4 separate regions of the Homo sapiens genome follow, and regions 1, 2 and 3 are each reported to be linked to region 4. Evidence: microRNA targets listed by miRTarBase, many of them from high-throughput screens and not tested one by one. Region 4 holds a microRNA gene; each other region holds the end of a gene's coding sequence.

Evidence for each region. Region 4 holds the annotated microRNA hsa-miR-6881-3p (AUCCUCUUUCGUCCUUCCCACU, at 2,084-2,105, opposite strand). A microRNA usually pairs through its seed, bases 2 to 8, with sites in the 3' UTR of a target mRNA and lowers its output. Matches are read on the target gene's strand: a 7mer-m8 pairs with bases 2 to 8, a 7mer-A1 pairs with bases 2 to 7 and ends in A, and an 8mer does both.
Region 1: miRTarBase lists SLC23A1 as a target of hsa-miR-6881-3p. The part of its 3' UTR that is shown has no 7-base or 8-base seed match.
Region 2: the mRNA of RUNX1T1 is a reported target of hsa-miR-6881-3p. Seed matches in the 3' UTR shown: 8mer at 710-717.
Region 3: miRTarBase lists MTARC2 as a target of hsa-miR-6881-3p. The part of its 3' UTR that is shown has no 7-base or 8-base seed match.

What each region holds. Positions count from the first base shown.
Region 1 is chr5:139,369,308-139,372,417 of GRCh38, forward strand. It overlaps SLC23A1 (solute carrier family 23 member 1), which reads right to left. Exons shown (of 15, transcript NM_005847.5): 14 at 2,680-2,946. The coding sequence ends at 2,699. It overlaps PAIP2 (poly(A) binding protein interacting protein 2), which reads left to right. Exons shown (of 4, transcript NM_016480.5): 4 at 1-410. Among named protein-coding and RNA genes, the nearest start is that of SLC23A1, 12 kb to the right of the region's middle.
Region 2 is chr8:91,957,404-91,960,505 of GRCh38, reverse strand. RUNX1T1 (RUNX1 partner transcriptional co-repressor 1) reads left to right here. Exons shown (of 12, transcript NM_175634.3): 12 at 1-3,102. The coding sequence ends at 264. Among named protein-coding and RNA genes, the nearest start is that of RUNX1T1, 140 kb to the left of the region's middle.
Region 3 is chr1:220,781,436-220,784,545 of GRCh38, forward strand. MTARC2 (mitochondrial amidoxime reducing component 2) reads left to right here. Exons shown (of 8, transcript NM_017898.5): 7 at 343-497; 8 at 2,484-3,110. The coding sequence ends at 466. Among named protein-coding and RNA genes, the nearest start is that of MTARC1, 3.9 kb to the right of the region's middle.
Region 4 is chr15:74,409,278-74,412,375 of GRCh38, forward strand. It overlaps MIR6881 (microRNA 6881), which reads right to left and starts at 2,155; the gene lies at 2,080-2,155. SEMA7A (semaphorin 7A (JohnMiltonHagen blood group)) reads right to left here. Exons shown (of 14, transcript NM_003612.5): 11 at 2,608-2,735; 12 at 2,279-2,433; 13 at 2,018-2,079; 14 at 12-1,708. The coding sequence ends at 1,347. RefSeq lists enhancers at 1-463, 107-366, 2,372-2,872, 2,873-3,098.

The DNA.
Region 1 (3,110 bases), not on the chromosome of region 4:
AGATGAGTGCCAGTCCAGCCTTTTCTGGTATGTTATTGTTAGAAATATTGAGTTCTAATGTTACATCTGAGGAAGTATGTAATTTGAGAATTGTAACTTCTAAGGGATTCACTGCATCATAGCTATGCCTGTATGGAGTCTAACATATGACCAATACCAACCCATAATCCAGCTGAACAAAGATACTGTAACATGATTTGAGTGGTGCTTTTCCTTGCTTTGTTAACCATCACGAGAGTCTGCAGCACAACTTTTAACAAAGCTAGAACAGTTTTGGCTTCTTAAACTTCATATTTGGGTAGGTTAAGCTGCCATACGTGTTCAGTGTGAATAGTGTTTAAGTTGAAAATATTGTAAAAAAATTATATTTTTTCAAAAATATTTAAAAAAATAAATAATAGTAGAACTGAGCAGATGGTTGTGTTTATTGGTGCTGGAATGTACTGTAGTGGTGTTACTCACTTGAGTATGGGCCCAGTGCCTCAGGACAATCTTGCTGGCAAAATGTGCTAAGCTTTCAGGCTTTGTTAGATTCTAACAGGTATGTTGCCATGCAAGTACCTTTCCAGAATATAGCAGTAGAATAACTCCATTGCCCATCCTTGCTTCTTAATCACCTCAGACTTCAGTGTCAGGGGAATCCTAGATAGTCATGTAAGAAACTTTATGGCTGACCAATATGATGGTGACCTTACTCTAATAGAACCTCCATTGTTTTTTGTTCTTCACAAGGGCTTTTTTTGAGCTTATTAGGTTGAAAAAGATTAAGAGAGCCATATAGTCAGTTCTGACTCACATTCTTCTGGCAGTGGGTATGGGGGAGGTTCTTTGGTGTGGGCACCTGTACCCCAGTGTGTGGTTGGTTGGTTGGTTGGTTTTTGGAGACGGAGTCCTGCTCTGTTGCCCAGGCTGAAGTACAGTGGCACGATCTCAGCTCACTGCAACCTTCACCTCCCAGGTTCAAGTGATTCTCCTGCCTCAGCCTCCCAAATAGCTAGGATTACAGTTGTGTGCCACCACACCTGGCTAATTTTTGTATTTTTAGTAGAGACCGAGTTTCACCATGTTAGCCGGGCTGGTCTTGAACTCCTGACTTCAGGTTATCCACCTGCCTCGGCCTCCCAAAGTGCTGAGATTACAGGCGTGAGCCACCGCACCCAGCCTTTATTTATTTATTTATTTATTTATTTATTTATTTATTTTCAAGACAGAGTCTCACTCTGTCACCAAGGCTGGAGTGCAGTCATGCAATCTCAGTTCAATGCAACCTCTGCCTCCTGGGCTCAAGTGATTCTCCTGTCTCAGCCTCAAGTAGCTGGGATTACAGGCGCCTACCACCACGCCTGGCTAATTTTTGTATTTTTTTAGTAGAGATGCGGTTTTGCCATGTTGGCCAGGCTGGACTCGAACTCCTGACCTCAGGTGATCGCCCTTAAGAGTAAAGATTCTTGAATGTGGCTTTTGTTGGGAAAAAAATTTAAAAAAAGAAAAGGGGGCTCTAGGCTGGGTGCGGTGGCTCACGCCTGTAATCCCAGTACTTTGGGAGGTCAAGGTAGGTGGATCATTTGAGGTTAGGAGTTTGAGACCAGCCTGGCCAACATGGTGAAACTCCATCTCTACAAAAATAAGCTGGGCATGGTGGTAGACGCCTGTAATCCCAGCTACTCAGAAGGCTGAGACAGGAGAATTGCTTGAACCCGGGAGGTGGAGGTTGCAGTGAGCCGAGATGGCGCCACTGCACTCCAGCCTGGGCGACAGAGCAAGACTCTGTCTCAAAAAAAAAGGAAAAGGGAACTCTAGCCAGACTTCCTGGATGTGAATCCTGTGATCATGGGCATATCACTTAACCTTTCTGTACCTTCCTTTCCACATCTCTAAAATAGCAGTAATAACTGTCTCTGGATTATGTGAGTAGTTAATATATATAAGTACTTAAGACATAGAAAGTCCTGTTTTAAGTGTTGTTATTTTTACTATTAAGGAGTCATCTAGGCTAACCTCTCTTTTTGGGAACTTTTCTTGTCTGTCTGAGGGAACGTGCACATTGAACCCACTTCAGTGTTTAGTAGAGAGCCAGGCATCTGCATTACAGATAGTGATGGAAGGTTTCCGAGCATCAGCTGCCCATGCGTTCTGAAGACCTAAGGACAAAGTGTCACCTCATCAGGGCTTGTACAGGCATCGTTTTAGGATAAAGGCATCCTGTTTTAAAGGGTTTTAATTTTATGACGTTATTGAGACAAGGCAGTGTATATGAGAGGATTTTTCCTGTTCTTGTGCTGCATTTCTCAACATTTTCCATGTCGCATATCAAAGTGATACTTGTTTAGCATACTGGAGTACAAGAATGAGGCTGCCAGTGGCTAGAGTTCTTAGCTCAAGGACTCCAATTGGCCCAGATTCTGCCCAGGTGTCTGGAAGGCTAGAGGATCTGCATTTCAGCATACTTGTAGCCTCTTAGTGGCCCACACTAGTTGGGAAGTTCTGCTGTTACTATGAAATGGTAAAGGAATTCCACCCAAAATCCGTATGTTGACTTTTTACCCAGCTCACCTTCTCTTTGAGGACATTCAAACAGTTTACAAGAAAGAGAACTGAGTAGTTTGGTTTTTCTTTGGTTAAAGCATAAGAATGTTTTGATTATTCAACCCTCCCACAAAAACCATAGACACATCCTACCTTTCCTGGAAGTCATTTTTCAGACCTTGGTGCACACAGATGCAGTTTCTGTATTTTCTGGAGTGTCTTCTGGAATTGCAATCTGATCTTTTGAACTTGAAGAAAATCCTTTGAAGACTGGGCAGATAGGAATGTATTTCAGAAAGGTAATTCTTTTTACTATGCCCATCCCAATGGGGAAATCGTAGCTCTTGAGGCTGGAAGACATGTCACTGTTGGCATGAGCCCCAGCTTTCCACTGTATCAGACCACGCTCCTCTGGGCTCCCTGGAAGAGGATAGTGAGGTCATTTACCAAGGCCAGCAACCCTCAGCCACCCCCACTTCCCATAACCCAGTCCTAAGGCAGACTTCTGGAATCAAGTATCTTCCTTAACTATCATTTGGTCCTAAAACGTGGCTGAATCTATGGTTTCTGAGCTCCTAACTTGG
Region 2 (3,102 bases), not on the chromosome of region 4:
TGTGGCCGTAAAGCGAGTGAAACCTGCAGTGGCTGTAACACAGCCCGATACTGTGGCTCATTTTGCCAGCACAAAGACTGGGAGAAGCACCATCACATCTGTGGACAGACCCTGCAGGCCCAGCAGCAGGGAGACACACCTGCAGTCAGCTCCTCTGTCACGCCCAACAGCGGGGCTGGGAGCCCGATGGACACACCACCAGCAGCCACTCCGAGGTCAACCACCCCGGGAACCCCTTCCACCATAGAGACAACCCCTCGCTAGACGTGAACTCAGAACTGTCGGAGGAAAGACAACACAACCAACGCGAAACCAATTCCTCATCCTCAGATGCTCAAAGTTGTTTTTTTTGTTTGTTTGTTTATTAGATGAATTATCCTATTTCAGTACTTCAGCAAGAGAGAACCTAACTGTATCTTGAGGTGGTAGTAAAACACAGAGGGCCAGTAACGGGTCGTAATGACTTATTGTGGATAACAAAGATATCTTTTCTTTAGAGAACTGAAAAGAGAGCAGAGAATATAACATGAAATGATAGATTTGACCTCCTCCCTGTTATTTTCAAGTAGCTGGGATTTTAAACTAGATGACCTCATTAACCGATGCTTTACCAAACAGCAAACCAAGAGATTGCTAATTGCTGTTGAAAGCAAAAATGCTAATATTAAAAGTCACAATGTTCTTTATATACAATAATGGAAAAAAAAAAAAGAGGAAAACCCTCAAGGGCATGAGCATTGGATACAGCAGTAGACATTTTAACAAGAAGATGAATGGCGTCCGTGGGTTGCTAACTGAACTTTGAAGACCCGCTACAAAACGCGCAGATGTGCAGCAGATTGGAAGGAGACACAGATGTTCGGTTTTTTTCCTGTTTCTGAAAAGAAATAATAATATCCAGGTCAACAGAATGAAAAATGAAAGATGATTTGCAATGGGATGTATGAATACAGCAGCAAGAAAAAAAAATGCCATAATACAAAAGGCTCCATATATATATATATATATATATATATACACACACACACACGCACATATACACACACACACACACACACACACACACACACACACACACACACACACACACACAAGTAAGAGACTCAGCCTGCAGTTAATTAGCATTCTGGCAGTTTTGACATCAGCCAGCTGCCCTAAATAACCCTTCAACGTTTCTTCACTTTTGCAAGGTTCCACAGAGTAAGACATTGGGTCTATTCCAGCTCATTCATTTTATATTGAAAAAAATAATTTTAAAAATGGTGGCTTCAGCTCCAGCCCCTTTCCAAAATTTTTCAACCCCACCCTGTTTGGATTTTTAATTAAAAACTAGTAGTTCTCTTGGTGTTAAAACACTTCTGTCCTGTGAGGTTTCCCAATGGTGTTTTTCTTGTAAATGTGTTGGACAAATGTGAAGATGCATTGTAGTTTAACCATATGCCCACATTTAGTCTCTTTATTCCTAGTTGGTGAGAAACCTGTATCTTTCTATGCTGCTTTTATATCTGTATGTATTAGTGATATTTCTCTAGTAGTTAAAAAAAAAAAAAGGAAAAAAAGACTCTTTTTGGTTGTCCTCAAGAAAAGAAAAGAAGAAAAGCTATCTTTCGGAGCTGCTATTTCACTCTCTTATAGGATTTTTTTTTTTCCTGAAAACCAGCATGCTTCACGGAATGCTAACATATTGGTGTTTTTGTAAGAGGGATGTACATAAATGTATTTTGCACTGTCACAATGACTCCCTAGGCATGCTTTTTGTTTTTTTTTTTTTTTTTTTGAGCAAATTCTTTTTAAATATGCTAGAGCCATTTCATCAAGTTTAGCTGTAGCATAGAGTAGTCGTGGAATTTTTCTTTTTTTTTTTTTTAAATCATTATTAGGGACTTTTTTAAAAAAATAAAATAACAAGATATCCTACTTTAAAAAAAAAGGACAGTGCATGCATATTGCTGTAAGGTCGTTTAAGTATTTCTAATTTTACAAAAGTAAAAATCATTAGAGCTCCAAATGCTGAGGTGTAGATTGACAGCTTTAACACTGCTGAATGCCAGGTTATACAGTATTCTTACAAAAAGGGAAGTCAGCCAAAGACTGATCTGATGGACCAAAATCGGAATTTTGAAAAGCACCAGTACTACTTTCCAAATGATCAGCAGGTTAAACATGTTCAGCAAGGTATAGTATGAATCCATTAACCCTTCGTTGTCCAGGGTCCAGACCAGAACTACTTGTTAGTTTTGAAAACAGTAGCCCAGGATGTGGTTGTGTGCTTTAGGAAAGTCAGCAGTGCTGCAGGCTGTGTAGACAACCAAAGTTTACAAGGCTGGGAAGACACTTCTCCAAATACATATACACCAGGCATTTCTTTAAAATCAAAAACAATCCATTAGCTTTGGGGCGGGGGGTGGGGGGAGGGTTAAATGTAGGCCTTGGAAACAGTTTTAAGTGGCTTTTAAGTATCTGCATAGAGGCAATCCTAAGGTTTGCTTTAAGTCTCTTAAATCTAACATTTTTAAAAGCATTTCTTCCCTGTATTTTCATATACAAGTTGGTTTTAATTTTGTTTGGGTGGTGTTATTTTTTTTAAATGACTTTTTAGTTTAGAAAGTTCTGATGAGCAAATAAATACATCTATCTACATGTTGGAAGTCCATCTGCCAGCACACCTGCTTAAAGTGAAATGAAAGCACATAACCAGGCTCTGAATGGGTTATATTTTATCATGGTGCTCCCAGAATCCTTTGACCTCACTCTGCTTTCTAGTCTGCTTGTGACACTGGACAGTCCTTTCTTACAGAGCTATTATATGTTCTAGGCTACGAAGGGTTAAATAATCCCAAAAATGAGGTATGTCATACCCACACGTCTTTATCTCTAGAAGCTGTGATGTATGTGAAACAGCACTGTTATTCTTAACACTAGTGTGTAAAATAAGGATTAGTACAGTACGTCTCATTACTTTTTAATTCAGGGCACCCTGAGTGAAAACAAATACAAAAAAAAATCCCTAACTCTGAGCTCTATCTCTGATTCCTCTTCCTCCTTCCCCTCTTCCTCCTCTTCCTCTCCTCCTGTTTTGCTACATTCTCCTCAGTGGCAAAA
Region 3 (3,110 bases), not on the chromosome of region 4:
GGGCCATTCCATTTTGAGTTTTAGGGGCATTTGTTTCAATGAGTTGTGAAGTTGAAGGTACCCATATAGACAAAGTATTTATTTTATACTTACACATAAGTTTTTTTCTTTTTGGACTTAAACTGAAGCCATGGAGAAATTGCGTAGACTTTCAGGATACTTCTAGAAAAACTAGAATTATTTGCAGTTTGACTAATTGTCCACAGACTTCTCTCGCAACATTTTAGAAAATTCTTGCTGTGTATTTATAAATAACTTGGAAGGCAAACTTGAGTTCTATTGAGAATACTTCGATTATTATTTCCTTTTTGTGTCTGATGATTGAATTTTTGCTTGTTTCAGCTACCGCCTGTGTGATCCTTCTGAGAGGGAATTGTACAAGTTGTCTCCACTTTTTGGGATCTATTATTCAGTGGAAAAAATTGGAAGCCTGAGAGTTGGTGACCCTGTGTATCGGATGGTGTAGTGATGAGTGATGGATCCACTAGGGTGATATGGTAAAGGGTCAGCTTTGCTTCTGAATACGCTGTCTTGAAGCCATTGCTGCATTTTCTTGTGTTAATTTTTTTTATGTTATGCTGCTTTAATTCTTGAGAGAATGAACAGTTTTATATTCTGATCTTTGGAGTTGGAAAATGCCCTTAATTTCTGTTCCCTGCAGTAATTTGTGTACTCCTACCTCAGCCTTCTCCACCCCTATTTCCCATTTAATGGTAAAATGCTGATGGAAGAGGCTCAGCAGAAAGACAGGTATATGTTCACAGCTCATTACAGAATATCATTAAGGAATAGGGAAATGAAGGTGATTGATTCTCAGAGTTATGTACATTCTCAGAGTTATGTATTTATTTTTTCTGTCTCAGATAGAAGGGAAAATGTTTAAATTATTCAACATCAGCTTGGGAAATGTTTAAATTGAATGTCTTTTATCAAATGTATTTTTAAAGTATAATTGAAGTTTGAAAAAAAATCAGTGCATCATGGTGACTGGGTCCTGAATCATGAGTTAGAAAATAATGTTCTCACATTGATTTCATTGTGTCCAATACAGCCCTCACTCCTGGAGGCAAAAGCCTAACTCCCAAATTAAAGGAATGAGAAAGTTGGACAGAGGACCTCAAATTGGAGATTTTAAGCAAGTTTTCTCATAAAATCCATGACCCAGTTCTTTAAGTTACCTCATCTCCAAAACTCTTGACCATCCTTCTCTCTGATTCTGGCCTGAGCTTCTCACGTGTGTTACTTGCCTTTGTAGTCTTGACACCCACAACCTGACCCTCCTTAAGGACAGTGTAACACAGTGGCTTAGAAGGTGTAGATCTAGCATTAGATAGACTTGGGTTTGTAATCCAAGCATCTTCCTAACTTGGTTGAGATGTTTAACTTCTCTTTAAGTCTCAGTACCCTTATCTGCAAAGTGGGAATAATAGTACTTACCAAAACAAGCAATAAAAGTTATCTTGAGTATTAATTCATATAAAGTTGCGCTGCAACACAAATAAAGTGCTCAGTAAATATCAGTTATGTTTTTTATTGCCATCATTCCATCATGATCCAGTCTTAGGTTCCATAGTGGGTATAAAGATGACACAGGCTTTGCCTTTGAGGTGGGCAAAAAGGAGCTACACTTCTATTGATGACTGTTATGACTAGGTATTTGCATAACCATAACCATATTTCATAACATATTTCATCCGTTCTGAGATCCTATTCTAACATCTCTGATATCAGTCAGCTTCTTATAACATTCAGGATGCCTTTTGAAAAATATCAGTGATGCATAAAATTATCAGTGATGCATATAATAATGGTGCATCTTACAATTGGTATATCTTGGATTTGATGAAATACAATAAGTATTAATACTAGAGGGGAAACTGTGAAGCTCCTAAGTACCTGGCATTTCTAAAAGCCCCATTTGGGGAGAGTGGACCCAAGCCTGAGCCATCTAGCTTGAGTGAAACTGATCCTGTGTCCTGCTGTTCCAGTCATGATTGACTGGACCTGGATCATTGTGTGAGCCAAGGGCTTTCATGTGTTCTCTGCATCTGAGGGAGCCCAATGGCTGTGAGATACCATAACGATTGAGGGTTTTCCATATCACTCCGTCACAAACTCATCCAATCAGATCCTGTTTTGCAGTGGATGGAGGCAACAAACATCTGTGGTTCACTCAGCCTCAATTTCCAATTGTCTCTGCTGCCCAGAAGGCCTTGTGTAATCTTTATCTGTGAGAGGATCTCTGTGAGATAGATATGATAACAGGCACTTTATGGATGAGAAACAAAGGCTTAGATAGGTCAGCTGACGTAGGGCCTGGGAGCTGATGTGAGTTAGAGCTAATGGGCCATGCTTTCTGCACAGCACTGCACCATACATTTATATGTGTAACCTCAATAAGTGACTGTTTTGTGGGAGTTTGAATTATTTATGAACAGTAGGATAAACAACCAAATAACCAGAGATTCTTATTATTTATTCAGGCTTCAGCAACCAGGAGGGATTGACTGAGATCTTAACAACAGCAGCAACGATACATCAGCAAATCCTTATTATCCAGCCTTCAACTATCTTTACCCTGGAAAACAATCTCGATTTTTGACTTTTCAAAGTTGTGTATGCTCCAGGTTAATGCAAGGAAAGTATTAGAGGGGGGAATATGAAAGTATATATATAAATTTTAGGTACTGAAGGCTTTAAAAATAATTAAGATCATCAAAAATGCTATTTTGAATGTTATCATGGCTATTACACTTTTACTTCCTGACTTTAATATTGATGAATAAAGCAAGTTTAATGAATCAACTAAAAAGCTGCAAAAATGTTTTTAAAATGTGTGCCTTTTATTACCTATCAGTCTATGTTTTGGGAGAAATGGGAAGCAACAGATCACTGTGTCCTGATGTGCAGGACGCATGTTACCACACTCACAAATGCCTAATATTGGTCTTTATGTGGCCATTGAGTCCTGTTGACTTTCCACTCATGTGCTTTTTACTCTAGCATTATGGAATCTGGGCTGTACTTGAGTATGGAAATTCTCTTATAGACTTAGTTTTAGTACTCTATTACACCTTTACTAAGCCACATAAAAGTAATCTGTTTGTGTG
Region 4 (3,098 bases):
ACAGGCGCAGGTAAATAAATAGCTTGTTTATTAGTAATATGTTACATTATTAAAGTGCATTGAGAAGAGGTGCAGGGGCCAAAGCTGGAAGGCCACTGGCCCCAGCCACTGCCCTGGGTGGCCAGACACAGCCGGAGAAGGGCCCAGCTCCCCCCTGAAATGGATGGACAGGGCTGGGGGCAGGGCCGCCTGCCTGGAGAGCTCGGCCCAGGCCATCCCCACCGGAATTTTCACAGTTTAGCCTAAGTTATAACATGTCCTGAGCGAAGGTGGGAGGCTAGGAGCATGGAAGCACAGCCCCTGGGGAAGGGGGCTGAGAGGAAGGGAGGAGGCCCCCCGCCCCCCAACCCTCAACGCCAAGGGCAGAGTCCTGGAACCTCCCCCTGAGGACCCGGCTCGTCCTTCCAAATGAACACGGTGAAACTAGGGCTCAGTTTTCTCCTTCATTCTCCCGTTTCCCTCACCCCACCCCCTCCCATAACCACCCCCAACACTAGGGGCTCCAACAACGTCCCCCTCAGACCGGGCTCCCAGGGCAGAGCCAGCTCATGCCACTCTCCAAGAACCCATGCCCGTCTCCAGACTCTTATCTCATCCCCGGGAGCCTCAGACTGGGATCACCCCCGCTCCCCAACCCATCCCTTCCCAGCCCCTCCCTTTCCCACCCACCCCCCCGCATGTAGTTTTGGTATTTTCATACAGATGCAGTCGGAAGTAGCTATACATGAAATAAGCCTAACATAAAAATAGAGCTTTTTCCGTCCTTCCGTCCGGAAAGCAAACATCCTTCAATAAACATGCAAGGCGGCTGTCCTGTGGGACCCAGGACCAGAGAGGGAGCTGCAGAGGACAGGGCTGGACAGAGGGTAGCCCTGGGTCTTCAGGAACACCAGCCACCCAGCCATGAGAGAGGGAGGGGAAGGAGGCAATGTGGGTACCAAGAGTCCAGAAGGACTCAGGCCTCAGCCCCAGGGTCGAGATGGAGTCCCAGCTCTCCTATCCAAACCCACTCCCCGACCCATGGGCTCTTGGGCTGGGAGCATCGCTGCATTTAGTCAAGTTTGAGGAGTCTGAAAAATATTTTCCAGAAGATAAAGTCTTGGGTCATCGATGCCCCAGCTTCACAGTCGGTGCCCTCATTCTCAGCCCCTCACCATCCGTGCGCCACCTGGGGCCCAGCAGCCGCCTGCGGCTGGACGTCTCCAGGCCTGGCATCCTCCACTGGGTTATTCTGTCCCCTGGAAGAAGTGGCAGGCAAGGAGCTCCCGGGCCAGCCGGCTCTGAGTGTGAGACGTTCTAGTGCCCTGGGCTGCAGAAGCCTGAGGCATGCCCAGCCTCGGGAGGCCCTAGTGGACCAGCAAGCCAAGAGTGAGTGTGGGCAGCACCCCCAGCCAGAGGGAGGCGGCCAGGGCACAGGCATGACCCAGCAGGTGCTCGGCCATGATGCCGTCCTCGGGCAGCAGCTGCCAGTGCTGAGCCTCGCGGAAGTAGGAGCCCTCCTGGGCCTCGCAGAAGTAGTGGCCGTACTGCTGCGCCGTGAGGTTCTCGATGAACAGGATGCAGTTGGGGCTCTGGTGACCAGGTTCGCAGCTCTGCTCCACGTTCTCCTTGTGGCGCCATGAGTAGGTGGCGTGGCGGGATTCCATGGGGCAGCTCAGGTAGTAGCGAGAGTTTGGGGCCAGGGAAACCTTCTGCAGTGGGGCCTTGTCTGGGGAGGCAGTGGGGAAGCAGCCGTGAGGAGGGACAAAGAGCTCCCAGGGGAGGATGTGTCCTCCCCACGGACTGGGATCCCAGGACAAGGCTTCTGAATGAACGTGGGGAACCCAGCCCTCAGCGTCCTCCTTTTTTCTCCCGTCTCGCTCATCCCACCAAGAGGGCTCCCTCTGCAGGACTGTATCCTGCCCCATGTACCTGGGGCCCACAGGACAAGGCCATGTCTCCCTCAGACCAGGACAATCAGGGCAGGGCAGTACCCCACTCATTGGGCCACAGCCGCCAGCAGGGCCAGATCAGGTACCTGGTTTGGGGTTGGGACACTCCTTGTGTGGCTCGGCTGGATTAATGGATTGCAGCACTGACCTGGAGTGGGAAGGACGAAAGAGGATCAGCAGATACAAGGCTGCAGACCTGACCCTCCTATCCTTACCCCAGTGCAGTTCCAGCAGAGAGGAGGGTCCCACAAGAAAGGCCCAGTACCGCCACCTCCTCCAGCCCGACAACACCTCCCCCTCTCCCATGCCCACCTTCTCCCAGGGACGAGGGATCCCGGCCAACGTACCGTTCGGAGCTGTAGATGGAGATGCAGCGGCCTTGGTCCCAGCCGCAGTAGGGGTCTCGGGACATGAGGCAACCGTGGCAGCCCCCGCCATAGACCTCACACAGGTCCAGGGGCACCTGGCTCACCTCCCACTGGGAGCTCACATACAGCTTCCTCTGGAAGGACAGCAGGATTGGGTCAGGCCCGGGCCCCACCCCACACTCAGTCCTAAATGTCCAGGCCCTAAGGCCTAGAAGCTCTTAAAAGAACACACAAATCACATGCAAAGGAGCCCTGTCCTCAGCTGCAGTCACTGCATAGCCCATGGGACGCAGTGGGGGAAGGCTCACCCGCTCAGCATCCAGCGACATGGTCTGGATGGCAGCCGCGCGGCGGAAGGGCTGGATCTCCATGATGTTGAAGGCGAAGCTGTGCTCCTGCTCCCCCGGTTCCACCACCTTGTGGATAGTGCCCCTGTCTGTGTATGGTGGACAGAGGGTCAGTGGGCGGGAGTCCCACTGAGGGGCCAGGCAGCTTTCCTCTAGGCCGGGGAGGGGTGGGAAGTCACAACTCAGGCAAGGGTCACAGGACTGGTGTGGGCAGGGCGAGGAGAGCGTGACTGGGGAAGAATGTGGGAGCCTAAGGGCAGCCTGGAACCTTCCAAGGCTGATCCAGAGAGGCCATCCCAGGAGGCCCAGGGGTCCCTGGATACGGCCTCCAACATTCCCAAGGCTGCACGGGAAGAACAGAAGCAGGAGCCCCACACCAGCAAGGTCAGTGCGGCTGCTGTCCATGCATCACCTCGTTTAACCCTCCACAGCCCTGCGAGGTGGCTGTCATC